Homo sapiens: one gene and its partners. Changing the gene in region 7 together with the main gene of any one other region gives a genetic interaction. Each region holds a gene or a part of one and is shown on either strand. Other genes may lie near its edges.

What was found.
Region 1: changes in CFLAR (region 7) and UXS1 together harm fitness less than expected from each alone (positive genetic interaction), as found in Homo sapiens cells (one large-scale study listed by BioGRID).
Region 2: changes in CFLAR (region 7) and CHST15 together harm fitness less than expected from each alone (positive genetic interaction), as found in Homo sapiens cells (one large-scale study listed by BioGRID).
Region 3: changes in CFLAR (region 7) and ODR4 together harm fitness less than expected from each alone (positive genetic interaction), as found in Homo sapiens cells (one large-scale study listed by BioGRID).
Region 4: changes in CFLAR (region 7) and B3GAT3 together harm fitness less than expected from each alone (positive genetic interaction), as found in Homo sapiens cells (one large-scale study listed by BioGRID).
Region 5: changes in CFLAR (region 7) and UFM1 together harm fitness less than expected from each alone (positive genetic interaction), as found in Homo sapiens cells (one large-scale study listed by BioGRID).
Region 6: changes in CFLAR (region 7) and TNFRSF10A together harm fitness less than expected from each alone (positive genetic interaction), as found in Homo sapiens cells (one large-scale study listed by BioGRID).

What each region holds. Positions count from the first base shown.
Region 1 is NC_000002.12:106,096,802-106,100,301, reverse strand, and holds part of UXS1 (UDP-glucuronic acid decarboxylase 1), read left to right. Parts: intron 1-1,528; coding exon 1,529-1,586; intron 1,587-3,480; coding exon 3,481-3,500. UniProt on the Homo sapiens protein: Catalyzes the NAD-dependent decarboxylation of UDP-glucuronic acid to UDP-xylose. Necessary for the biosynthesis of the core tetrasaccharide in glycosaminoglycan biosynthesis.
Region 2 is NC_000010.11:124,024,099-124,027,598, forward strand, and holds part of CHST15 (carbohydrate sulfotransferase 15), read right to left. Parts: intron 1-3,500. UniProt on the Homo sapiens protein: Sulfotransferase that transfers sulfate from 3'-phosphoadenosine 5'-phosphosulfate (PAPS) to the C-6 hydroxyl group of the GalNAc 4-sulfate residue of chondroitin sulfate A and forms chondroitin sulfate E containing GlcA-GalNAc(4,6-SO(4)) repeating units.
Region 3 is NC_000001.11:186,392,838-186,396,337, forward strand, and holds part of ODR4 (protein odr-4 homolog), read left to right. Parts: intron 1-1,109; coding exon 1,110-1,178; intron 1,179-3,500. UniProt on the Homo sapiens protein: May play a role in the trafficking of a subset of G-protein coupled receptors.
Region 4 is NC_000011.10:62,614,796-62,618,986, reverse strand, and holds the end of B3GAT3 (galactosylgalactosylxylosylprotein 3-beta-glucuronosyltransferase 3), read left to right. Parts: intron 1-1,639; coding exon 1,640-2,000; intron 2,001-2,190; coding exon 2,191-2,481; intron 2,482-2,746; coding exon of another isoform or gene 2,747-2,801; exon of another isoform or gene 2,802-3,187; coding exon 3,188-3,286; 3' UTR 3,287-3,691; downstream 3,692-4,191. Other genes in the region: ROM1 (rod outer segment membrane protein 1), read right to left, coding at 4,148-4,191. UniProt on the Homo sapiens protein: Glycosaminoglycans biosynthesis. Involved in forming the linkage tetrasaccharide present in heparan sulfate and chondroitin sulfate.
Region 5 is NC_000013.11:38,359,851-38,364,119, reverse strand, and holds the end of UFM1 (ubiquitin-fold modifier 1), read right to left. Parts: intron 4,080-4,269; coding exon of another isoform or gene 4,054-4,079; exon of another isoform or gene 3,410-4,053; coding exon 3,342-3,409; 3' UTR 501-3,341; downstream 1-500. UniProt on the Homo sapiens protein: Ubiquitin-like modifier which can be covalently attached via an isopeptide bond to lysine residues of substrate proteins as a monomer or a lysine-linked polymer.
Region 6 is NC_000008.11:23,204,603-23,208,102, reverse strand, and holds part of TNFRSF10A (tumor necrosis factor receptor superfamily member 10A), read left to right. Parts: intron 1-686; exon of another isoform or gene 687-1,195; intron 1,196-3,500. UniProt on the Homo sapiens protein: Receptor for the cytotoxic ligand TNFSF10/TRAIL. The adapter molecule FADD recruits caspase-8 to the activated receptor.
Region 7 is NC_000002.12:201,126,164-201,129,663, reverse strand, and holds part of CFLAR (CASP8 and FADD-like apoptosis regulator), read right to left. Parts: exon of another isoform or gene 144-3,500; intron 1-143. UniProt on the Homo sapiens protein: Apoptosis regulator protein which may function as a crucial link between cell survival and cell death pathways in mammalian cells. Acts as an inhibitor of TNFRSF6 mediated apoptosis.

The DNA of each region.
Region 1 (3,500 bases), about 95 Mb from region 7:
ATGGTAGGACCTCTTACCCTTTCTGTCACTGAGTGATTTTCTGAGCAGTTTTGTTCCATCTCATTTAAAATGCAAGGTTTCCAATGTGGACTGTCCAGCATTCAAGATGTTCTGCTTCTGTTGATGGCAGTGGACACAAGAACCTCTTAGCTCACAGAGACCTCCCCCTTAACCCTACCTTGGGGTCATTTCAGGTGCTTCTCCCAAATTACCTCTCCTGGTTCCTACACAACACTCTAAAGTTCAGGGAACTCTAAAATGTTGGCCATGTGACCTATTTCTTGCAAACCATGTCACCTTTGCTTATGCATGTCTTTGTAACCAGCCATCTCAAATACATTGCAGACCATGCATTTTTCCCTGAGGTGAAAGGGAATTCTCATCACGTAGGAAAGAATTGCCCTGGAGTGCTGACTCCATTCTGGGACTGTTGCTGATTCATGGGTACAGTGTGCCACTTTTGAAAAAAATTCACTTAAAACAGACCAGAACGTGCCTCACACTGTAAGCCTCATTTTGCTTGCAGCATTTGCCTGTGTACACTGGAGAGGCCCGAGGCGCCCCTGCTCTGCGTTTTTGTTGCAGGTTCTTTAGCAAGGGTGTTGTCAGTGACTTCCCTGGGCAGCCAGGCTCTTCTCTGTAGATACCATGTTCCTCCTTCCCTCTTTGGGGAGGGCCTTTGCACAGGGACAATTCCTAAAATTGGAATCGTGTGTCTGCCAGGAGAAAGGCAGAATCACTTTCTTGCAAATTTCCGTCACTCCACTTCGCTAGTCATCCCCTCTGTGCTCCATTGAGGCCCAGGGTCTCTCCCTCCACATTTACCATCTAGCTTCAGGCTAACCGAGGACCTGGGCATGAAGAGGCTTTAGGGTATAGAATTATCAGACTTTATGGTGGTCTCTTATGATGAGGGCAGTGGTGGCAGAGTAAGAGTAACAGGTGCTCTGATGTGTGATGGGAGGGAGAAAAAGAGCAAATGGTTTTCCTTAAAGCCCCCACACAAGTATTCTCTCTTCATGAAATGCATGGAGTTTGTCCTCTGGCTTGCCGGGGACACTCGCCTGTGAGCCTACTCATTTCTGCCTTAGCTTTTGGGTGTGAGATTACAAGTCCTTCATCACTGACATGGTTAACACAGCTCACCCAGACGGGAATAGATAGTGTTAGGAGAGCTAATTTTGTAAACCCAAGCTTTTATAAAAGTGACATTGAAGTTATGTTAGATATGGAAATTGTCTGATACTCAGTGAGTGTGTGCCTTCATCAGAAACTCTTGACCTATCCAAAGCCCAGCCTTGTACACAGCAGCCTAGAGGCTGAAGGTATAGATGGTGCAGTTTAGCACTGCCAGGTGAGTAACTGTCATCTTGGAAGCGGAGTACCCTCTGGCACACGGAGCTCTGCTGAAGCAGCGCAGGGAGGTCAGACTCGGCCAGTAGACGTCTCTGCAGACACGCCTGTGGTCTGGGTGGTGGATTGCTGCTGTTGTCATGACGCTTATAACTGGAAACCGTTTCTTTCTTAGGGGAACCCAGAAGAACACACAATCCTAGAATTTGCTCAGTTAATTAAAAACCTTGTTGGTAAGTAGGATAAGTCATTTCCTGAGTAAAATCGACTGTGCCTGCCCTATCTGTTAATAACACCTTGACTAGAAAGTGGGTAATTAATACAAGCTAATTGAATTGGATCAAAGCAGAACTTTTTATCAGGAATACTTAAGTGTTTTCTAATTTTTAAGGAATAGAAAGATAAAGGAGGGCAGGATTGGTTTCTCCTCAGTTTTCGTTGCAGGTTTGCATGAAGTGGGAGGGAGGAGGAGATTTGCTCCCAGTGTTTGAGGCACGATTGTATTAGATCATCCTACATGGGTGACAACTATTGGATTTCCGAACTGGTCATGTCAAGCATAGAATTTCAGACAGCAAGAGACAGCAACCACCAGCTGCGTGCTTCAGGCAGGTTTGAAATTCTGTTTGCAATTCTGGTTATCCTGGCTGCCACCCACTGGGGGCAGTGTAGCATTGGGAGCACCCCATCAAGGTGGACTCTTAGGCCATGAGAAGGTCAGGTCTTCCAGACCAGCCCTGGATTGCAGACATAGAGTGGATGAGCCCTTGGCCTCATCTTCAGACTTCCTGGAGCTCTGAGGAGTCAGACTCTTGGAGGGTGTCTGTTGTCTGGGGTTGATCCTGAAATTTGAGTGAAGTCACAACCAGACTAGACTGGCAGGTAGGCCAAGGAGGAGTATGCCACAGTGTGTCCTGAGGTGACCATTCAGACCCCGCTTGGCTGGGTTAATTCCTCCAGTGTGCCCTTCCTGGCATCAGGCTGCCATTCATCGGCATTGGTCTAATCGACCCGGATGGCTGGAATCCTCCCGTTGCTCGTGGCAGTAGAAGCAGCGGTCTTCCTCAGACATAGCCTGCATCATCTGTGGCTCCCACAGCTGCTCCGATGCACTTCCCAGCTTTTCCATCCTGAATCTGTGTGTTCCTCCTGCGTGAGGAAGGGGCAGGCTCAGATCACAGCTCTGTGCCATCCACTCCTTCACACCCTCACTGCACAGAGTGAGGCCCGTGGGCCAACGCAGCAGCAGCATCATCAGATGTGTGTTAGAAATTCAGACTCTCATGCCCTAGCCCAGGCCCCCAGATCAGGATCTGCCTGTTGACAGGCTCTTCAGGTGATCCGTGCGTGCTGACGCTTGAGAAACACTATTTGAAACCTAAGGCTGGGGGGAGGGGCGTGCAGCTTCCCTGCTGTGCTTCTGTATATAGCTTTGTGACAGACCATCCTGAACCACCTGTGGTGGTGATTCGCTGCAGAGTCTGCAATGTGGCCTCCATGACACGGAGGCAGGGAAAGCCTCCACAGGCTTTCTTCTGCAGGTCTGGCCCACAGTCACTGGTGGGGCTGTGTACTGCTGGCCAGTGGGGCCTGGGCCCAGCAAGGATGTGGAACAGGCCAGCCTTTGCCGTCCTCCGAGAGGTCCCTCCAGCTGGGTGGCTGCACATCTTGGGTCTCAGGGCTGTCTAGGCTCCGAGCACCCAGGTATGGCCCACTTGGGGCATCCACCTCAGGGATGGCCCCACACCACGTTTGTGGTCTCACACCGGGGTCATGCTCGGTGGGCACGTCTGCACTTGTTACCTGGTGTGGGTGGTCTGCCTTGGAGCAACCCTCTTGTAGTGGGCGGTAACTCAGGCCTGTTGAGACAGAATAACCTGCCCCCCACCGAGCTCTTGCTGGGCGCCTGCACACAGTCAGCTTGGCCACAGCAGTTGCAGGAGCACTCCCTGGACTTCCACGCAGAACAGTCCCTCGGGAGCTCCGGGGCTTCTCAGAGAACTGCATTTCCACCGCCTGCACCCTATTCACACCACATATGGGGTTTGCCTTTGATGTGGATGGTAAGGCTGTGCTTACCCATGCTTTGTGATTCTCTCCTACCTTTTTTTTCTTTAAACATCTCAGGTAGCGGAAGTGAAATTCAG
Region 2 (3,500 bases), on a different chromosome or scaffold from region 7:
CCTCCCAAAGTGCTGGGATTACGGGCGTGAGCCACCACGCCCAGCCGCCATCCATACTTCCAAACGCTCCCAGACCTTCAGCCACATACTACCCTGCAAAAACTGTGCTCCCTTATAGCAGGGTCTGTTGCAAATGCGCCTTCTCCACTGCCCTCCCCTCTAATTGAGGTCATGATATGAGGAGCAGCATTTCTTAGGGACAGGCCCAGAAGCTATCCACCTCCGTAGCCCACCTTGGCACATCGGGTGCCTCTGACACAGCCCTCTAGAATTCATCCACGGCCAATGTCCACAGAGGACACCTCTTGGAAGTCTTGAGCAGTTTGAGATCTACCCACAGAGTTCCTAGAATCAAAACACCCACCGGAACAGGAGTGTTCCATCTACCACAGCCTGGCCAGCCAAACTGTCCAAAGAGACAGTCAGCAAAGGGGCTCGGTGGCCACTGAGTAGATTTCCCCAGATCCACACTCGCCTGAGAATATTCCCCAAGACAACACCACATCAGCTTATTACTGGTGTCCCCAACATCACCTGTGCTATTTTCCTTCTTCAGAATTAGAAGACACATCAAAACTGAAACACGGCATCTGTCGCCATAGGGTCGCTCATGGTTACTATGACCTAAATGGCTGGTCAATAAGTGCCAAAATCAGACACGCGTGAACCTTCAAGCAAGGTTTGGCTGTGTGCACTGAGGGGTGCCAGGTGGCAATTGGTCTGAGGGGTACCCTTCCTGGCTCACACATTTCCTATGAGTCCTGTCAATAATATGGCTCAGCCCAAGAAACTACGTCAATGAAAAGTAACAGATGCTTCTGAAACTGTCATAAAATCCCACGTTAAATAAGTATTCGAAGCCCAGTTTTTACCAAAGATGCCCACAGAACTACCCAAATTGTTTGGTGGAACTGGAATTCCATCACATAAATTACCTCACACAAACCCAAACACTGGCTGAAGGTTTCCATACTGAGAATTTTCTTTGTGGTAATAACATTTCTTGCAGATATTTGGCTCATAAATAAAACAAAAGCACCTAAGCTTGTCTTGATTTTAAATACAAAGTCACTTCATGAGGAATCTGCTGATTCCATACAATTCTTCAGAGATCAAGAAGTAATCCCTAGGAAAAACTGGGACATACCTACTGTTCCAACCAGGCAAGCCCACCCCTAGCAGGTGAAACGGCTGATTTTCATCTGTTTGAGGTGGGTTAAAGTGAACTCACTACCTCACTTCCTGTGAGTCACATGTACAGCCTTTGAGAGCCAGGCCACGCTCCTTCCTCGGCTGGATGAAAAGAGACTCCTTTGGCCTCTCAGTCACCTCTGGGTACTTTGGATCTGCTCAGAGAACTGGCAGTGGGCTTTGGGAGCCCCTCGAACCCCACTGCGAGAAACTATGCTGGGTCCCTGGCATCCTGCTGTGTCACAGACATCTGAACAGGGACTAGATTCACCACAAGCCATGGCCACCATCTGGATTCCGTAGTTGGATGGATAGTGGACACCAAAGAATTATGTCCAAGTCTGAAGCCCAGCCCCTGTGAATGTGACCTTTCTTGGAAATAGGGTCTTTGCAGATGTCATTAAGTGTAGGATCTTAAGACGAGATCCTCCTGGATTTACGGTGGTCCCAAATCCAATGGCAGGTGTCCTTATAAAAAGAGGAGAGGACAGACAGCACCACAGAAAGACGGAGACAGAGCCTGGAGTGCGGCGTCTATGAGCCAAGGAACGCCAAGGACTGCTGGAGGCCACCAAGAGCTGGGAGCAGGGGACGGCTTTTATCCCTTAGGGCCACCAGAGGGAACCAACCCTGCAGACATCTTGATTTAGGACTTCTGGCCTCCAGAATCATAAGAGACTACATTTCTGTTGTTTTAAGAAGCCAAGTTTGTGGTGATTTATTATGACTGCCCTAGGAAACCAGACAGATTTTAAACCCCAATTCTAAGGAAGACCAATTACTCCAAGGAGTTATTTTTGCCAATACTTCTCTGCCACCCTGAGACCCTGGAACAGTGGCCCTGAGGGTAGGGGAGGACTGGGGTCATGTGGCCACATTTCCCAGAAGGAAGCATGAAGGAAGGCAAATGCGGACAGGAGCACTTCCCTTCAGGGGAGCACTCAGACAGGGGAGCACTGAGACGGGGGAGCACTCTTTGGGTTCTCCCCAAGAATTAAGCGAATGCTTCCTAAGATTGTCTTCAAGTAACAAAGCTATCATTTCCCCCTTGACTACTCTCCAGGGGAAAAGAGTGAGTTAATAATCTTGGGTGGGGGAAAGCCACTCGGATAGGTTAAAGCCACTCAGAAAATGCTGAGAACAGCAAACATATCAAGAACAAGTATCCACTGGACGTCAAAAGGCCAGACAGGCACACTGTGGAACAAGATGAAACGTACAGAAACAAACTGAAATGTCTACCTTTTAGTCTTCAAAATCCACTATCCCATGAGGAAGTGGGGGAAGGAGACCAATGTAATGGAAAACACACAGCTCACGATCAATCATCACAGAACTGCAGGGGCACGGATGCAACCCCAGGATGCATTAACAGGGGCACGGCATGAGGAATGTGGGAGGGTGGAGCCAGGCGACAGGCAGCTCACGGCCTCAGCGGATGCTTGCTTTCAGTGCTGGGCACCAAACCTGGCTGCTCTCCCTGGAGATGCAAAAACTCAGCAGGAAGGAGCCCAGTCCCGAACTCCTGAAGGACTGACCAGCGGGCAGAAGGTTCGGGAAGAAAGCCTGGTTGCAGGCAAGGGGAAATACCTCCAGTCAGGGCAGGCTAACACGAGGGGATGGTCCTAGAAGGCAGGAGCAGCCTAGGCTGGAGGGAAGGAGGGCTCCAGGATAGCGTGGGGGCCAGGGGACATCATACCCTCCCAGCCCTGAGTTTCAGGGCTGCCCAGCCCCCTCCAGCTGAGCCACCTCATTTTCTTACTCTCAAACCATCCCGAACAGATGGGTATTACATTTGGCCAGGACTGTTTCCAACGACAATTCCAAATATAAGTCCAAATGCATTCCAGGCCTTCTGTGCTGCGGTTATTTTAGAAGGCTGTCGGCGCGGCCCCTCACACTGGGCCCGTGCTCATGGGGTACTGCTCAGCCCCTTTCCTGTGCAGTGCAGGGGTCCTGGGACCCCTGGAGGAGCGGTGGGATGGGAAATGTATGTTAGGGGGCATAGGGCTCCATCAATCCAGTGCCTCTGAAAGTGACCATGTCTCTCCCCAAGGGACAAAGGAGAGGCCAGCAGTGGCAAGGCCCTACTATGTAAAATCTGGATGATTACAGCCAAGACCACTGCTGGATTCATTCAGGGACACTTACAGCCAAGACCACTGCTGGATTCATTCAGGGACACTTACAGCGTGCTGTTCTGAGCCAGCGAGCAGAGGTTGGTGAGTTGATCACTATTAAAGCAGGAGCTGCTGCTGCTCCTCCCGCCAGGGCTCTGTGTGATTGCTTTCCGGGTTTAGTACCTGCAA
Region 3 (3,500 bases), on a different chromosome or scaffold from region 7:
ACTAAAAATAACAAAAATTAGCCGGGTGTGGTGGCAGGTGCCTGTAAGCACAAGCTACTCGGGGTGCTGAGGCAGAAGAATGGCTTGAACCTGGGAGGTGGAGGTTGCATTGAGCCGAGATCGTGCCACTGCACTCCAGCCTTTGGCTACAGAGTAAGACTCCATTTCAAAATAAAAGAAAAGGAAAAGAAGAAAACTAACAGAGGAACAGAAAACCAAATACCGTATGTTCTGACTTATAAGTGGGAGCCAAATGATGAAAACACATGGACACATAGAGGGGAAAAACACACACTAAAAGGAGGGAGAAGGAGAGGATCAGGAAAAATAAATAATGGGTACTAGGTTTAATACCTGGGTGATGAAATAATCCGTATATCAAACCCCCATGACTGAAGTTTATCTGTGTAACAAATCTGCACATGTACTCATGAACTTAAAAGTTAAAAAATAAGTCCAGGAAAAAAAAGAAAATGATGTAATTGGAATCCTGAAACTTTACAGGAGTGTCATCTGAATTTCATCTGATTTCCAAATTGTAAACTGCTGACCTGCAACCAAAGGCCACATGTTGTTCTGCCCTGATGACAGTTCAAAAGCTATGGCCATTTTATAAAAGAGGTTTATAGAGGCTTCTAAAATAGCTTTGACCTGAAGGAAGCGGAACTTTTGTGATCTCTCACTTTTTAAAGCAGGGATCAGCAAACTTTATGTGAAGAGAAAAATACTACATATTTAGATTTCACAGGCTGTATTTTTATCTCTACTGTGTAGCATGAAAGCAGCTACAGGAGATACATAAGTGAATGATCCTGGTTGCATACCGGTAAAACTTTATTTACAAAGATGAGTGGCAATGTGGGTATTTGCCCACAGGCAGTGGTTTGCCAGTTGTTGCTTTAGAGGAATGAAAGTATGGAATTAATTGTTTTAAAGAGTGTACATTGATACAGAATACATAAAGTAATATCTATATAAAAAGCTAAATTAAAATAATTAAAAGACTTGTTTTTTTCTAAGTTACTTAGTATATGTACAATAGTTTATAAGTTGTCTTTTATGTTTTACAGGCTTCACAGTTTGGCTTTTTAACTTTTGTGTTTTTTCAGAAAAAATCTTCTAGAGGAAATACTCAAGCAACTAGTCATTCTTTTGATGTCAGAGTGCTAACGCAGTTGGTAAATATTTTAAAATAACACTTAAAATATTTATTAGCATAACCATAATGAAACTGTTTCTGTTTTTATTTTTCTCATTAGAGAATAAAAGGATTTTAGAGCTGTAAGAGACTGTATGAAATGGCTGGTTATAGGAAGGTTATTCCCAAGAAACATCATTTTAATAAAACCTGTTTGGGTTTTTTGCCTCAAGGATATTAAAATTTTAACATCAATAGATAGCAGTTTAAAAAAATATGTACACATACATGCATACATATACATGTATGTATGTGTACATATTTTGGGTTGTAGCTTTTATAGTTAAAGTTGCAATTTTAACAACTTAAAAGATGTGTACACAGAGGTGCAAAGAGTTGTCATATGCTTATTTTGAAGTAGATTAATTAGATTTATACCCCCTGATTTGATAAAAATCACAAAGTATTAATTAGCAAGTTTTATATTTATGTATGGTTGCTTTAATTTACACGTCTTTTCGAAAATTTAAAAGTTGGATATCTTAAAGAATAAAAAGTTAAAGCCACTAATTATTCCTAAAAATACATACCTTTGATTTTAATCCTACTTGAAATTATCCTAAAGAACAGACAAGGGTATAAAATAGCAAACGCGTGTTTGTAGGAAACTTTATTTCAATATTATACTGGATTTTGAAACAGAAATACTCTCAGGACTTGTGTTTTTTTGAACTGAATAGAATAGAATTAAAAGCAATTTGGCATTTGAGGATGTTTTAGTTTCTTCTTTTTCTGTGTGTAGCAATAGCGCATTAGTAAATTGTCTTTGGGCCTATGCCACTCAATGTGAGTTCTCAATTTCATTTTTCAATACCTTAGAGGTATTTTAGTCTCTGATTTTCTACTTTGTCTTGATTTTAGAAGTGTCCTTTGTTTTGAGGCTGGCTATTCCACTACTTATGTGCTTTTCACTAGTTAGGCTTACTTCATGGTTTATTAAACAATTTGGTTAAGATTATTTTATTAGTAGTATAAAATTGTAGTTGGGAGATGTATAGAGTGTGGGAATATAGAGAGATGAGTGGAAGATAATCTCATGAGATAATTTATTGTAGTAGTAATATTATTGTTATTTTTGAGACGGAGTCTCGCTCTGTCTCCCAGGCTGGAGTGCAGTGGTGCGATCTCGGCTCACTGCAAGCTCTGCCTCCTGGGTTCACGCCATTCTCCTGCCTCAGCCTCCTGAGTAGCTGGGACTACAGGCGCCTGCCACCACACCTGGCTAATTTTTTGTATTTTTAGTAGAGACGGGTTTCACTGTGTTAGCCAGGGTGGTCTCAATCTCCTGACCATATGATCCGCCTGCCTCGGCCTCCCAAAGTGCTGGGATTACAGGCGTGAGCCACCGCGCCTGGCCAGGTGTAGTAATAATATTATATAGTATAATATATTTTTGGTAGTCACTCCACCGATCACCTAACTGGAAATTTTGAAGTGACTAATATACAGTAAGTAGTCAGTAAGTATTTATTGCCACTTTTCTCCCAGTTAAGTCTTATTGATTCCTTATTTGTAGTATTAAGCTTTTCTTTTATTTTCCATACAGTCCTGCTGTCATTAGCCTTACAACAGTATTATTTTACCTAAACTAGCACAAGTAGCCCTTAACTGGTCTCTCTTCATCTATACATTCTTGTCCAAAGTGATTGTTTCTCTAAATCCCTTCTACCTTTGTTAGTATATCTCTTGAAATACTTTCCATTTATCTACTCTATCCTGTTTATACACTCAGATGATCATTTCTGAATCATAGTTTATGTTCAGTTATTAATTTTTTTCAAGAAGTATTTATTGAGTTTGTACAACAGCCGGACACTGATTATGGTACTCCTTGCTCAAAATTTCTTAAGTGTTCTGTACTGACTAGTTAGAGAAGTCCAACTCAGGGTTCTTCATAGCCTCAGCATACCTTTTTGTTCTTATTTTCTACCTCTTATTTTCTAGATGTATGCTTGCCATACCTTTAAAGCTCTGTATTTCCTGAACTATGTATCATGTCTTTGCTCTTTTCTCTGTCACCCAAACTGTCAAAATCCTATCTGTACATTAAGATCTAGCCCAAATGCCACTACTTGTGTAAGATTTCATTTGGTTCCCATAGAAATGGGGATCTTCTCTTTTTCAAATGCCATGTCAGCATCATAGAAGTTCCCTCACCTATAGGCTGTTTGGCAGCCAGGTTATTCCTAAGTCCAAATAACCAAGAGGAGTTTACATTTGTAGACCCCAACTGGTCTACATTTCCACCTAAAAGGAATGAGTCAGACCTTACATTCTTTAAAACTTTTCCTGGCTGAGCATG
Region 4 (4,191 bases), on a different chromosome or scaffold from region 7:
TCCCGAGATGGAGTCTCACTCTGTCGCCCAGGCTGGAGTGCAATGGCACGATCTCGGCTCACTGCAACCTCCACCTCCCGGATTGAAGCAATTCTCCTGCCTCAGCCCCCCGAGTAGCTGGGGTTACAAGCATGCGCCACCACACCCGGCTAATTTTTTGTATCTTTAGTAGAGATGGGGTTTCACCATGTTGGCCAGGCTGGTCTGGAACTCCTGACTTCGTGTTCCACCTGCTTCGGCCTCTCAAAGTGCTGGGATTACAGGTGTGAGCCACCATGCCTGGCCAGTAATTTTTTGTATTTTACTTTTGTATTTTTTTTTTTTTTGAGATGGAGTCTCGCTCTGTCATCTAGGCTGGGTGCAATGGCGTGATCTTGGCTCACTGCAAGCTCTGCCTCCCGGGTTCACGCCATTCTCCTGCCTCAGCCTCCCAAGTAGCTGGGACTACAGGTGCCCGCCACCACACCCAGCTAATTTTTTATATTTTTAGTAGAGATGGGGTTTCACCGTGTTAGCCAGGATGGTCTCGATCTCCTGACCTCATGATCCACCTGCCTCAGCTTCCCAAAGTGCTGGGATTACAGGTGTGAGCCACCATCCCCAGCTCTTATTTAATCTTTAAAACAACATTGTTATAAAGTACTGTTATTCCCATTTTACAGTTGAGGAAACTGAGGCTTAGGGAGATTGAGCCATTTTCCCAAATTGTCTCACATAATAAGTTACAAAACTGGATTTCAAACCCAGATCTACCTGATCCCAAAGCCTGTGCCCTTAATTTGTTTTTTTTTTTTTTTTTTTTTTTTTTTGAGACAGAGTTTCGCTCTTGTCGCTCAGGCTGGAGTGCAGTGGCACAATCTCGGCTCACTGCAACCTTCGCCTCCCGGGTTCAAGCGATTCTTCTGCCTCAGCCTCCCGAGTAGCTAGGATTACAGGTGACTGCCACCATGCCTGGGTAATTTTTTGTATTTTTAATAGAGACGGGGCTTCGCCATGTTGGGCAGGCTGGTCTCGAACTCCTAACCTCAGGTGATCCGCCCACCTCGGCCTCCTAAAGTGCTGGGATTATAGGCGTGAGCCAACATGCCCGGCCTTTTTTTTTTTTTTTTGAGATGGAGTTTTGCTGTTATCACTGAGGCTGGAGTGAAATGGTGCGATCTCAGCTCACTCCAACCTCCTCCTTCCAGGTTCAAGCGATTCTCCTGCCTCAGCCTCCCAAGTAGCTGAGATTACAGGCATGTGCCACTACACCCAGCAAATTTTTGTATTTTTTTAGTAGAGATGGGGTTTCACCATATTGGCCAGGCTGGTCTGGAACTCCAGACCTCAGGTAATTCACCTGCCTCAGCCTCCCAAAGTGTTATTATAGGTGTGAGCCACCATGCCCGGCCCTGTGCCCTTAATTTATAGTCTCCCACAGCCTGAGCTCTGGAGTTGAGGTGGGTGATGGACATGGACCAGAAGAACAGGGCAGGTGAGTGTTAGCATGAAGTTGACAGGCAAGAAAGAGGGAGTTTAGGCATTGGTTGGGAAGGGCCACAGGAGACGCAGGCAGTGGCCCAGGAGAAGCTGTCTGCCCTGGCTGGAGCAGGCAAATGGTGCCTGCCCCTTTTCCTTGTGCTGCATCTCTCCCCTGCAGGCTGGTACAGAAGGCAGAGCTGGTACGACTGTCCCAGACACTGAGCCTGGTGCCCCGGCTGCATTGGCTGCTGGTGGAGGATGCTGAGGGTCCCACCCCGCTGGTCTCAGGGCTGCTGGCTGCCTCTGGCCTCCTCTTCACACACCTGGTGGTCCTCACGCCCAAAGCCCAGCGGCTTCGGGAGGGCGAGCCTGGCTGGGTTCATCCCCGTGGTGTCGAGCAGCGGAACAAGGCCCTGGACTGGCTCCGGGGCAGAGGGGGTGCTGTGGGTGGGGAGAAGGACCCACCACCACCAGGGACCCAAGGAGTCGTCTACTTTGCTGACGATGACAACACCTACAGCCGGGAGCTGTTTGAGGAGGTGAGCACCAGGATGGGGATGGGCAAGAGACCAGGTGCGGCCAGCTTCATTCGTTACCTTGGTTAGCAGTGTTGCCGTTGGCTGCTGGGTGAGGGGCTGGAAGCAGTGGGGCAGAGTGAGCCAGGTGGCTCTTTCTGCTGCTCCCTTCCCCGGACCACCCCTCTGTTTCTTCTCTCCCGACCTCCGTTAGATGCGCTGGACCCGTGGTGTCTCAGTGTGGCCTGTGGGGCTGGTGGGCGGCCTGCGATTCGAGGGCCCTCAGGTACAGGACGGCCGGGTAGTGGGCTTCCACACAGCATGGGAGCCCAGCAGGCCCTTCCCTGTGGATATGGCTGGATTTGCCGTGGCCCTGCCCTTGCTGTTAGATAAGCCCAATGCCCAATTTGATTCCACCGCTCCCCGGGGCCACCTGGAGAGCAGTCTTCTGAGCCACCTTGTGGATCCCAAGGACCTGGAGCCACGGGCTGCCAACTGCACTCGGGTAAGGGAATGGAGATGGGCATAGAAACCTGGCTCTTGGATGGACAGGTGATGGGGGAGGTACAGTGAGACCCTGGGAATGGGTGGTTTAACCAGGAGGGACTCTCCAGATCTCTGATCAGCCTTGCTGACTCTACTGAAGGGGAAGCTGGGAACTAGCGGGGGAAAGTGGTCTCCTGCCACTCTGCCCCGAGTTCTGGGAACCCATGTGGCACAGAGAGGATGAAGGAATAAGGCCCTGTTTGTTGTTTTTTTTTTTTTTTCAGACAGAGTCTCGCTGTGTCACCCAGGCTGGAGTGCAGTAGCGCAATCTTGGCTTAGCGCAAGCTCCGCCTCCCGGGTTCACACCATTCTCCTGCCTCAGCCTCCCAAGTAGCTGGGACTACAGGCACCCGCTACCACGCCCGGCTAATTTTTTTGTGTTTTTAGTAGTGACGGGGTTTCACGGTGTTAGCCAGGATGGTCTCAATCTCCTGACCTCGTGATCCGCCTTCCTCGGCCTCCCAAAGTGCTGGGGTTACAGGCGTGAGCCACGCGCCCGGCCAAGGCCCGGTTTTAGAGGCACTAAGTCTTCCTCCACCCTGCCCTTTACACTTTGAAGCCTATACTGTATATGTCGATAGGGTTAGAGAATCCATTCCAGGCTCGGGGACCCAGAGGCCTGGCTGCAGCTGGGCCTGGCTCTCACTGCATCCCTCCTGGCACAGGTACTGGTGTGGCATACTCGGACAGAGAAGCCCAAGATGAAGCAGGAGGAGCAGCTGCAGCGGCAGGGCCGGGGCTCAGACCCAGCAATTGAGGTGTGATGGCGGCCCCACCCCAACTACCACCTCTTTTCAGGCACAGACCTTGTGGGACTGGGCCCCAGGCCTGCCCAGGATGTGGTTTTCCAAGTCCTGACCCTTGGAGCCAGAAGTGGCCCCTCTGCCCCTCCAGGCCCAGGGCATGGTCCTGCTGCTTCACCCCTCCCCTAGCCTGCCGTGTGGCACTGCCCACAGGCTGGGGACAAGCAGCCCTTGTGTTGAGTCAGGTTGGCCCTGTCTAGGGTGGAACAGAAGGACAGATGGACCCAGGAGGGAGGGCAGCTGAGTAACTGGGTAACTTATTGGGGCTGGGCATGCACTGGGGGGCTGGAGGAGCTGGGCTGGACCCTTCCCACCTGAGCATGCTGACCCCCTTCCTACCTCCAGAATAAAGAATCTCAACCTGGAGGGGCCTCTTGTTTTCCTTTGCTTCTTACATTGGGTTCTTGCTTTCTGATCCTTACAGATGTGGGCTCCTGTTGCTGCACAGGTCGAGCCAGGGTCCAAACTTTGGAGTCCTAGCTGCTCCATCAGACAGAAATCAGTTCTCCCAGGCCCCCATCCCCTTGACAAGAAAAAGCAATTGCTTCCATCCAAAAACTTTATTGAGTCTATATCAGAATCAGCCTCCAGGCCTTCTCATGTCACTTTCCCATCACTCTGTTCTTTGCTGTTCCCTGGTGGTTCTGACTACAAGGGCTAGGCCCTAGGACATCTGGTTTTCTTTCTTACCCCAGTCCAGCTCGCTGACTATCCTTAGCCCCTCTAATCCTACGATCCCCCCAACCTGGAGCCTTGGTAAGGAGTTGTGAGGTTTTCAGACTTGTCCATCCCTCCCTCTTCCTCACCCCAAGCTCCAGGCCTCTAGGCCTCAGATAGATCCTCCTTGGGAGGTGCTTCTCCTGGTG
Region 5 (4,269 bases), on a different chromosome or scaffold from region 7:
TCTATTCGACAATACCGCCATCGTCATCATGGCCCGTTCTCAATGAGCTGTTGGGTACACCTCCCAGACGGGGTGGCGGCCGGGCAGAGGGGCTCCTCACTTCCCAGACTGGGCGGCCGGGCAGAGGCGCCCCCCACCTCCCAGACGGGGCAGCGGCCGGGCGGGGGCTGCCCCCCACCTCCCAGACGGGGCGGCTGGCCGGGCGGGGGCTGCCCCCCACCTCCCGGAGAAAAACTTCAAAGGTTGTGCAGTGAGTGAGACTGTTAGCTAGCACCTTCACCTCAGGCTACTTACCAAGCATTGGAAAGTGCACTGTCCAAGATTCCAGAACATATTCTACTTACTTTGACCCCTTAGACCTCATTCTGTTCTTCTACAAAGTGAAAAGGTGGCCTTCTCATTAATTCTCAAACCACCTGCATGGCAGAAATCACCAGAACTCCTGTTTACAGAGGATCTTTATATATTATTACAGATGTAATAAATCAGAATTCAAGGAGTGGTTTCCAAAAATCTGTATTTTTAATTTCCTAGGCGACTCTGTTATCACCCAGGTTTGGAACCTACCAACCTAGCCAGTTACAATAACCCCATTTTCTTCTCAACTTTTTTTTTTTTTTTTTCCGTCTGTAAAATGGACAGGCATTTGCAAGTACTGTTATGTATCACTGAATCACAGGAACAAATTCTGAGAAATGCTTCCTTAGGCAATTTTGTCACTATGTGAACATCAGAATGTACTTGTACAAACCTAGTTGATGTCACCTACTACAAACTTAGGCTATTTGGTATGGCCTATTGCTCCTAGGCTACAAACCTGTAGAGCATGTTACTGTACCTAATACTGTAAACAACTGTAAAATGATGGTAAGTACTTGTGTATCCAAACATAGATAAAGCACAGTAAAAATATAGTAATATGGGACCACGGTCATATATGCGGTCTGTTGTTGGACGAAACATCACTACTATGTCTGTGGCAGATGACTATAAACTAATTTCTCTGACTTATGGTCATTAATCATCTTTGCCCTTTTTTTCTTTACTACATGTATTATATACTGACTCAAAAGGTGTGCTGATTAAGAGCTCTAATAATAAGAACAGACAATATGGTTTACAATATAACAACATGTATTTTCATTAGATATTAATTATAAACCAATAACGCATGTAAACTGAATACAATACTTCAAATCATTCTGCACAAAGAAATTACAGATCACATTTTTTTAATAACAAAATGTCTACTTGTTTAATAAAATGTTTTTAGGAACTTACAATGTTCAAAACCAAAGAATAAAAATATTAAATATATCACTTTATGGCACAGGACAACATAAATTTATTTTTGTAACACAGCAGGCAAATTTTTGTGCTAGAAACAGGATGGAGAAAAATCTAAATTAAAGCAAAAAGTCAGGAAATGGGTGTTCATAAATTCCTGCTTAACTAAGACTCAACATTTATTGTAAGAAACGGGGCCTCTGAACATCAGATTTTGTTTATAAAAATAAAAACTTCCTCCCTGTCTCTGCTAAAAATACAAAAATTAGCTGGGCGTGGTGGTGCATGCCTGTAGTCCCAGCTACTCGTGAGGCTGAGGCAGGAGAAGCCTGGCGACAGAGAGTCTGCCTCAAAAAAAAAAAAACAAAACAAATAAATAAAAATAAAAACTTCCTCAAACATCAGATTTTTTCACCTCAGCAAATACTTTTTCCTTTGATAATTCATAATCCTGCTGTTCATTTGTCACATTTATGAATATCTGGTAATTTCATAAACAACTACCAATGGTACACTTCAAATGCTGATTCTGTTGAATCTTCTTATTTTTTTTCCCCCAATGAACTTAGGGCCTATGATAGAGAAGATACTGAAACATGCTAAGATAATAATTGGTCTTAGAAAGACTTTACAGCAAGTATTTAATGAAAGCCACTACATTTCCAGCTCTAAAAAGAGCCAGACACAATCCCTGCTTCCAGAGTTCACCATTCAGAATACAGGAGGTCAAGCACTGATTCTGAATCATTAATGGGCTTTGATTTCGTCTTTCAAGATTTGCATAGATACTGATTTCTTCCGGAAGGGCAAATAAAATCTTCCCTTACACACATCATTCTTTGGATTCTCATAAGGGGTATTTTGAAGTCTGTATGTTGACAAGGCCAGTAGATACTTTGTTTTCTCTAACTGCCTTCTTCTACTTAAGACTATGTCAAGTATTTTGTTTTCCCTTTCAGTTCTCCCCAACATACACCTTCTGCAGTTTTGTCTATCCAGTCCGCTTTTCTGTAACACTTTGCTACCCCCTTCTGTTCCCCTTCACTGTTTCCTCTGTTGCTTTCCTCCTTAATAGAAGCCTGGTGATCTGGGCTTCCCCATCTTTCCTTTCCTGGCTTCTTATTCACATGGGTGACTGATCTTAGCACTTCCTTAAAAGTTGGGTTTTCAATAAATATAACTCATCAGCACTTCCGATCTGTATTTCCTTGAGCTTTTTTTTGATCTTCAGATCTGTGCAATAATACTCTGTTCCTGAATGCTATTTAGAAATACTATCCTCAAAACACCAGTGGTTTCTTGAAGCTACTTGTTTTAAATGTTGTATCAAAAGAGATTGATAAAGGAATGTATAACTCAGCAAAGGATGCTTCTACTGTAAATTCCCACCATTAAAAGTACTGGATTCTATAGGTCCACCATTAAAAGCTGGTATGGGACACCAATTTATACACATAAGGGTTAGATTAAAATTTTAATTTTTTGGTTGATATTAAACTGAAATTTATATAACTGAGGTCTGAATCTTAAAAAAAGTAAATGATAAAAATTTAATATAGTTAACTGTTCACTGATATGTCTATTCACTTCATCACAACCTATATATTTAATTAAAAATCAAATTATGAGTCTGCAAATCAGATGCTATCAAGCAAATTGCCATCCAGGGTCCATAATTCTTTTTATATTTTTATCTCAGATGAATATATACGATTCAGTAAATTTTAATGTTCCAAATTGTTCTAAAAAAAAAAATTATCAAAAGCTTCCAGTTAACAGTTGGCTAATTCATTTGCCCCCAACGAACTACCTGTTTGTGTTGTGAGGTAGCATCAAAGACTATGATCTTCTGTGACAGTAGTAGCCTTAATTCATACGCATTCCCTCTTCATAGGAAGAGTATGGACAACAAAAAGGGACAGATGAGTCACCTTTCATTAATCATTGACTCCTGGTGTTTTCATAGTATGTTAAATGCCTGATTTCAATTTTACAACAACAAAAAATACCAATATTTATTCTGAAAGGCAATCGTATGTTCCAAGTAGCAGATATTAACAACTTCCAACACGATCTCTAGGAATAATCCGCAGTTCTGAACCATGTTTTAGAAAAACATTTCCTATACAAACAAACAAAACATAAAGTTAGATATCTAAAAATCAAGTTATCTTAATATTCTGACAATTATTAAATATAATAAATGATTTAGTAAACAGTAAAATGGGTACAAAAGCTCAAGCATCATGAGACCCCAATTCCAAGCTTTTTAAGTCTTGTTCCTATTCTCCTATCTTCACAATCCAACATACGCTTAAAATTTAAAATAACACCAGCCATGAAAACTCTGACGAATACTTTCATCAAGTAACTGTGAATAATTTAATCATGAATACTTCCTTCAATACACAATAATATATCTAAGGACAGGAAAAAAAATGTAAATTACTACAAGTGACAAAAATTTAGATACCCTGACATATTTGGGGTCAATTGCCTGATGAGATTTTCTTCATATCAAGGATATGCACATTCAATTTTTAAAGATAATAAAACAAGCAGTATGTTAGAGTTAGCAGTAATTCAAACTACTGTAAAATATTGAAAGTTTCTCGATTAAGAAAAAAAGAAACCTTTGTCTACTAAGTTTAAAGGCATCCATACAATAAAGTGCCTCACGATTTTCAATAAACCTTTTTAATAAAATTATATATTAACAACTACTGAAGTAACAAAAATTTGCAATTTTAAATCACTTCATTTTCTTTATGGCTGAATTTCAACTGCAAGGCCTGTGAAAACAACATAATTTTGTTACAATAAAGAAATACTTTAGAATATAATTTAAAAATAACTACTGCTCTAGAATGAGGTTACATTAAAGCATGCCTAATTTTAAAACTTTAGATTATAAGCCTAAGAGATTACATTTTAAAAATATAAAACTAATTTTAAAAAAGTTTTAGACTTCTTTTTATAAAG
Region 6 (3,500 bases), on a different chromosome or scaffold from region 7:
CTTTTGGTCAAAGCCATTCAACAAGTCTCTAGGAAGTTCCACACTTTCCCACATTTTCCTATCTTCGTCTGAGCCCTCCAAACTGTTCCAACCTCTGCCTGTTATGCAGTTCCAAAGTTGCTTCCATATTTTCAGGTATCTTTTCAGCAGCTCCCCACTCTACTGGTACCAATTTACTGTATTAGTTTTTTTTTTTTTTTTTCGTGCTGCTGATGAAGACATTCCCAAGACTGGGCAATTTACAAAGAAAGAGGTTTAATTGAACTTACAGTTCTACGTGGCTGGGGAAGTCTTACAATAATGATGGAAGGCAAGGAGGAGCAAGTCATGTCTTACATGGATGGCAGCAAGCAAAGAGAGCTTGTGCAGGAAAACTCCCCCTTATAATAACCATCAGATCTTATGAGACTTACTCATTATCATGAGAACTGCAAGGGAAAGACCTGCCCCACATGATTCAATTACCTCCCATTGGATCCCTCCCACAACTTACGGGAATTCAAGATGAGATTTGTGTGGGGACACAGCCAAATCATATCAGTAATATTGTCCTTATACAATGAATTGGAAAGTGCTCCTTCCTCTGCTGTCTTTAAAAAGGGTTTCTGAATAATTGGTATTAATTCTTCTTGAAATGGTTGGTATCATTCAGTGGTAAAGGCATCTGGGCCTCAACTTTGTTTTTCTGGTGAAAACATATACATGTATTTAGAATTAGCCAGCTGGATTCAGTTTAGATGATCCCAATTTTGTTGGCAACATCCAAGACATGGTAATCAGGAGCCAGTCGAACATATGCCTTCTTCTCTCCATCAGGCCTAATCAGGGTGTTGAACCTTGGCCACATAAACATCATAGAGCTTCTTCACAACCTGTTTGATCTGGTGCTTGTTGGTTTTAACATCTACAATGAACACAAGTGTGTTGTTGTCGTCTTCTATCTTCTTCATGGCATACTCAGTGGTCAGTGGAAGCTTGATGATAGCATAGTGGTCAAGCTTGTTTCTCCTGGGGGTGCTCTCCAGAGTCTCAGTATCTTGGGCCACCGGAAGGTGGGTGATGTATGGATATTCTTTTTTTCATGGCAGTGGACACCTTTCTACACTGCCTTCTTGGCCTTCAAAACCTTTGCATCGCTTCAGCTTTAGGAGGGGCAGGAGCTTCCTTCTTTGCTTTCAGTGCCATCTTGTGAAAACGACTTTTCTTTAGGAGTAGTTTTGATAACTAAGTCAAAATCTTTACTTGCTATATGTCTATTCACATTGTCTCTTTCATCTTGATTCAGTTTCAGTAGTTTGTGTCTTTCTAGGAATTTGCCCCTTTCATCCAAGGTACCTAATTTTTTGTTGTACAGGTTTCATAGTATTCTTTTATAATTTTTTTATTTCTATATAATCTGTAGTAATGTGCTCTCTCTCATTTCTGATTCTAATACAGTCATGCCTCAGTTAATGATGGGAACTCATTCTGACAAGTGCATCATTGTGCAAACATCATAGAGTGTACCTCCACAAACCTAGATGATATAGCCTACTGCATCCCTAGGCTATGTGATATAGCCTATTGCTCTTAGATTACAAACCTGTACTAGTAGACAATTGTAACACAATGATAAGTATTTGAGTTCCTAAACATGTGAACATAGAAAAGGCCCAATAAAAATATGGTATAAAAGGTTAAAAAAGATGATGTAGTTGTCTAGGGCACTTACCATGAATGGAGCTTGCAGGACTGGATCTTGTCTGGGTGAGTCAGTGAGTGGTGAGTGAATGTGAAGGCCTGGGACATTCCTGTACACTACTATGGACTTTATAAACACTGTACATTTAGGCTACACCAAATCTGTAAATTTTTTTTTCCTTCCTTCAATATTAACTTCGTGTAACTATTTTACTTTATAAACTTTTTAATTTTTAAAACTTTTTCACTCGTTTTAACACTTAGCTTAAAAAACAAAAACTGTACAGCTGTACAAAAAATGTTCTTTCTTTATATTCGTATTCTATAAACATTTTTGTATTTTTAACTTAAACTTTTTTTTACTTAAAAATTTTTTTGTTAAAAACTAAGATAGAAACACAGACATTGGCCGGGCGCAGTGGCTCACACCTGTAATCCCAGCACTTTGGGAGGCCAAGGCAGGCGGATCACGAGGTCAGGAGATCGAGACCATCCTGGCTAACACAGTGAAACCCTGTCTCTACTAAAAATACAAAAAATTAGCTGGGCATGGTGGCAGGCACCTGTAGTCCCAGCTACTCGGGAGGCTGAGGCTGAGGCAGGATAATCGCTTGAACCTGAGAGGCAGAGGTTGTAGTGAGCTGAGATTGCGCCACTGCACTCCAGCCTGGGTGACGGAGTGTGACTCCTTCTCAAAAAAAAAAAAAAAAAGAAACACAGACATTAACCTAGGTCTACACAAGGACAGGTTCATCAACATCACTGTCTTTCACCTCCACATCTTGTCGCGTTGGAGGATCTTCAGGGGCAGACACACATGGAGCTGTCAACTCCTATGTCCTCTGATAACAATGCCTTCTTCTGGAAAACTGCATGAGGCTGTTTTATAGTTACCTTTTTTATTTGTAAGTAGGAGTACACTCTAAAATAACATTACAATGTATAGTATCAAAAATACATAAATCAGTAAGTCATTTATTATCATTATCAAATATTATATATAGAACTTCATTATATGTGCTATACTTTTAACTGGCAGTGAAGTAGGTTTGTTTACATCAGCATTACCACAAACACCTGAGTAACGCATTGACTTATGACATTACTAAGCGATAGGAATTTTCCTCCTCCATTATAATATTATGGGACCACCGTCACATATGTGGTTCATTGTTGACCGAAACGTCATCATGCAGTGCGTGACTATAATTTGAGTCTTATTTTTTCCCTGTGCTAATTTTTTAACACAATTAGTTGTGCCAATATATCGATCTATTTAAAGAACTAGATTTTGAGTTCATTAATTTACTCTGTTGTTTTTCTGTTCTCCGTCTCATTAATTTCTGCTCTAATCTGTATTATTTTCTTCCTTCTGCTTGCTTTATCTATAGTTTGCTCTTCTTTTTCGAGTGTCTTAGAGTGGATTATTAGGTTATAGATTGAGATATTTCTTCTTCCTTAATAGACATTTAGGAAGGATATTTCTTCTTCCTTAATAGACAATTTCTCTGTAAACTTCAGCTACGTTAGCTGTATCCCATAGGTTTTGGTATGTTGTGTCTTCATTTTCATTCGTCTTATTTTCTGATTTCTCTTTTGATTTCTTTTTAGACCAGTTGGTTATTTAGGAGTGTGCTATTTAATTTTTATATAGCTGTGATGTTCCCCAGTTTCTTCCTGCTATTGATTTCTAATTTTATTCCATTGTGGTAGGAGAGTGTATTTTGTATTATCTCTATCCTTTTAAGTGTATTGAGGTTTATCTTATGGCCAAGCATATGGTTTATTTTGGAGAATGTTCTATGTGCACTTTAAAAGAA
Region 7 (3,500 bases):
TGGGCTCTTTCCTTCTGGGTGGTCTCCCTGACTTAAGTAGATTAAGTTCTATAGAAAGGGATCTATAGAAGTCTAAAGAAAGGGATCCTTGGTAGACAGAACCAAAAACAGACTAATCCAAAAAGACAGAGAAGAAAACCTACATTGTAAAGGAAATGAAACAACAGATGAACTCATCTGCAAGGAAACCCCACATTCTTTTTCAGAATTCATCAGAATGTAAAGCATGTTCAGGGAAAATTACAACTAAGGGTTTAATGGCCTCAGTAGGAGGAATAGGGAAGAAGTACGTAGTAGAAGGAAGTGGGAAAAGCCCAACGACAGACAGCCTGACTAAATCAGGGAAACTTATGTCACAGAGTTAAACCTCCACCTCAATGACTCCACCCACGTGGCCTTGAACAAACAATGGAGAAAAGAAGTTTCTGTCCCTGTGCCACTCCTTTTTTCTAGTTGCTCTCCTACTTCAAAAGCCCCTCACTCACACCTGAGGGCAGAAACCTCTGCTGCCATCCTCCTAGACCCCAAGCCCTTTTCACAACATCATGAATGCTCACAGAACCTGCCACCAAGTTGTCAGGTTTGGATCACGTCTTCAGACCCTGAGCCCCATGGAGGTGCCAGAGGCCCTGACTCTCAATGCACTGCTACATGGCAGCAATTGCCATTAGTGCTTCTGATGTTCTCAGTGGAACATCTGGAAGTTACAGAGGATCTGGGGAAAGATCTCACTCCTGGGAGGGGGCTGGGTAGGAGGGGTAAGGAGCTCATGCAATGGGTGTGTTCTTAATTTCTTCCATTGAAACTCATCCTATTTTCTTTCAAAATTTAAGTTGCTAACCTATCTACTCTAAGTTTCACAGCTAAAACTTATGTTAAATCACCTCTTGTGTTCTTTATCTGTTCCTACAAGACAATATTTCAGGTTAAAATCAAATTTATTAACAAAAAATAAGTGGAAACACAACCCAACTCTAAATTGCCAATGGTTGCTTTGTATTTGTGTTCAAGTATATTTATATATTTATCTAGCTGTATTTAGTGAAAGAAGCACTGAATCCATTTATTTATATACATACAGTATCAGTCCACAAAAGATTTGAGCTATCTTAAAATAAAAACACATAAATAGAAAAATTTTATATGAAAACAAGAGGAAAAATTAGGTTAGAAATTTGAAATGGGCTTGCCCATTCATCCCAACTTCACTTAAATATGATTATTTGTAAATAACTGGAGAAATTAAATTTGCTAAGTTAAATTTACTAAAATTAAATGTGCTCAATGAAAGTGGAAAAATTGGCACTCAGACTATTTTACTTTTTTTTATCAGAAAGATAAATACAAATTTTATGTGTTCTGGACAGCCCAAATCTATACTCCACTCGCAGGCCAACAGTGCTTTAATCTCATCATCAGCTTCCATGAAAAGGAGGCCAAGTTCTTTTCTACTGTATTAATGAATAGTCACAATTTTGTCAACAGTTGTTATTATAAATTAAAGTATAAAATATATGCAGTAGAAGGAATTATAAAAACACAAAAATAAAATCATTAAACACAAGACTAAGAAATGAGATATTATACAAATTCACTGACATATTTGAAAAAGAACCAAACAGAACTACTAGAAATGAAATGCTTAATTCTCTATTTTTTTACAGTCATCTAACTTTTGTAATTCATAAGTATCAACAATATAACAATGCCACCAAGAGTTAACAAAATGAGATAATCATTTTAAAAAACATTATCTGCTCAGTTTGTTTCTTCCAACCATCACACCCATGACTGCTTTCTGCCAGTCACGCACACTCAGCAAGAGCACTGGCATACTGTCTTCCCTCTGTGCTAACGGGGGTAGAGTTTGGCAGCAAAATCTAGATTACTCAGTGGTAGCATCTGGCACATTGAAAGAAAATATCAAAAGGAAACTACAGATCCCGTGTGGAGCCAGCCCACTCAGATGCAACAAAATAGCAGCGTGTGTGTATGCTGGAGGCAGTTCACTGTGGCTAGAGGTGGTGAGTACTTGAGAAAGGAGAGCATACTAGGGAGAGGTAGGGCTGGGGTCCGAATAATCACCACTTTGTTGGGGTTTAAGCCCAAGCCAAGAAATTAACATAAAAATTACTCTTAGACTAGGGAAGCTCATAAGGTCTTCAGTTTTTTGTAGGGAAAGGGTCCCACTGTGTTTCTCAGGCTGGTCTCAAACTCCTGGGCTCAAGTGATTCTCCTACCTCAGCCTTCCGAAATGCTGAGATTACAGGTGTAAGCCACCACACCCAGATGAATGAGTTCTTTAGAGCCCAGTAAAAGACTTGTGCCCATCAGTTACCAACTCCACCCTGCCTGAGCTGCTGGACTCAGTGTCCCATTCGCCTCTTCTGAAGAGTCACTTGCTTTCACCTTACTCAGATGAAGGGGCAAAGGAATATCCAAGTCCAATTATTTTTCTTCCCTGCTTTCAAATACCCAATCCTCCTGACTGATCAAGATACCATTAGCTTCATTTCTCCCCCCAAGTGTTTTCAGCAGTTTACTTTTCCCTAGCCAGACAAAATTGGCACCTGTGTGTGTTTTCTAGAATTTTAAAGGAATTCCCCTTAACTCCCCTCACAGGCATATTCTAATTTAATGACTATATCTCCCCTTCTTTTCCACACCCACACCCTGGTACAAACTGTCCCTGACCTTCACAAGAGCAACTAAAACTTGAGACCAATTTCTGTTTCATTTCTCTTGCAGAAGTCAAGAGACTATCGCCAATTATTATTCAAAACATCAACAAAGCTTAGGCAAGTCAGAGTTATCTTTCACACACTAGCTAACAGGAGCATCCGGTTCTGGAAACAGAAATATTCCAGGCATTTTTTGTAGAAATTACACTTAATACTGGAACTAACAAAACTGCTGAGAGGACTGGAGGAAGGAGCTCTGGGGTGGGATTCTAACAAAGACTCCTGGGGCTGCTGCAACAACCTTGCCTCAGCCAGGGAAGTGAGGATCAGGAGGCTGCCACTAGAACTGAGCTCAAAGACCCTCTGACAGTGGAGACCCAGTGATCATGTAATGCCCAACCTTGTTTTTACTAACGCTGTTTTTAGACTCTCCCTTTCCTTTAATCACTTAGCCTTGTTTTCACCTGAATTGACTCTCCCTTAGCTAAGAGAGCCAGACAGACTCCATCTTGGCTGTTTCACTGGCAGCCCTTCCGCAAGGACTTAACTTGTGCAAGCTGACTCCCAGCACATCCAAGAATGCAATTAACTGATAAGATACTGTGGCCAGCAATATCCGCAGTTCTCAGGAATTCGTCAGATTGATAACGCCCAAAGCCCCGCGTCTATCACCTTGTAATAGTCTTAAAGCCCCTGCACCTGGAACTGTTTACTTTCCTGTAACCATTTATCCTTTTAACTTTTTTGCCTACTTTACTTCTGTAAAATTGTTTTAACTAGACCCCCCCCTCCCCTTTCTAAACCAAAGTATAAAAGAAA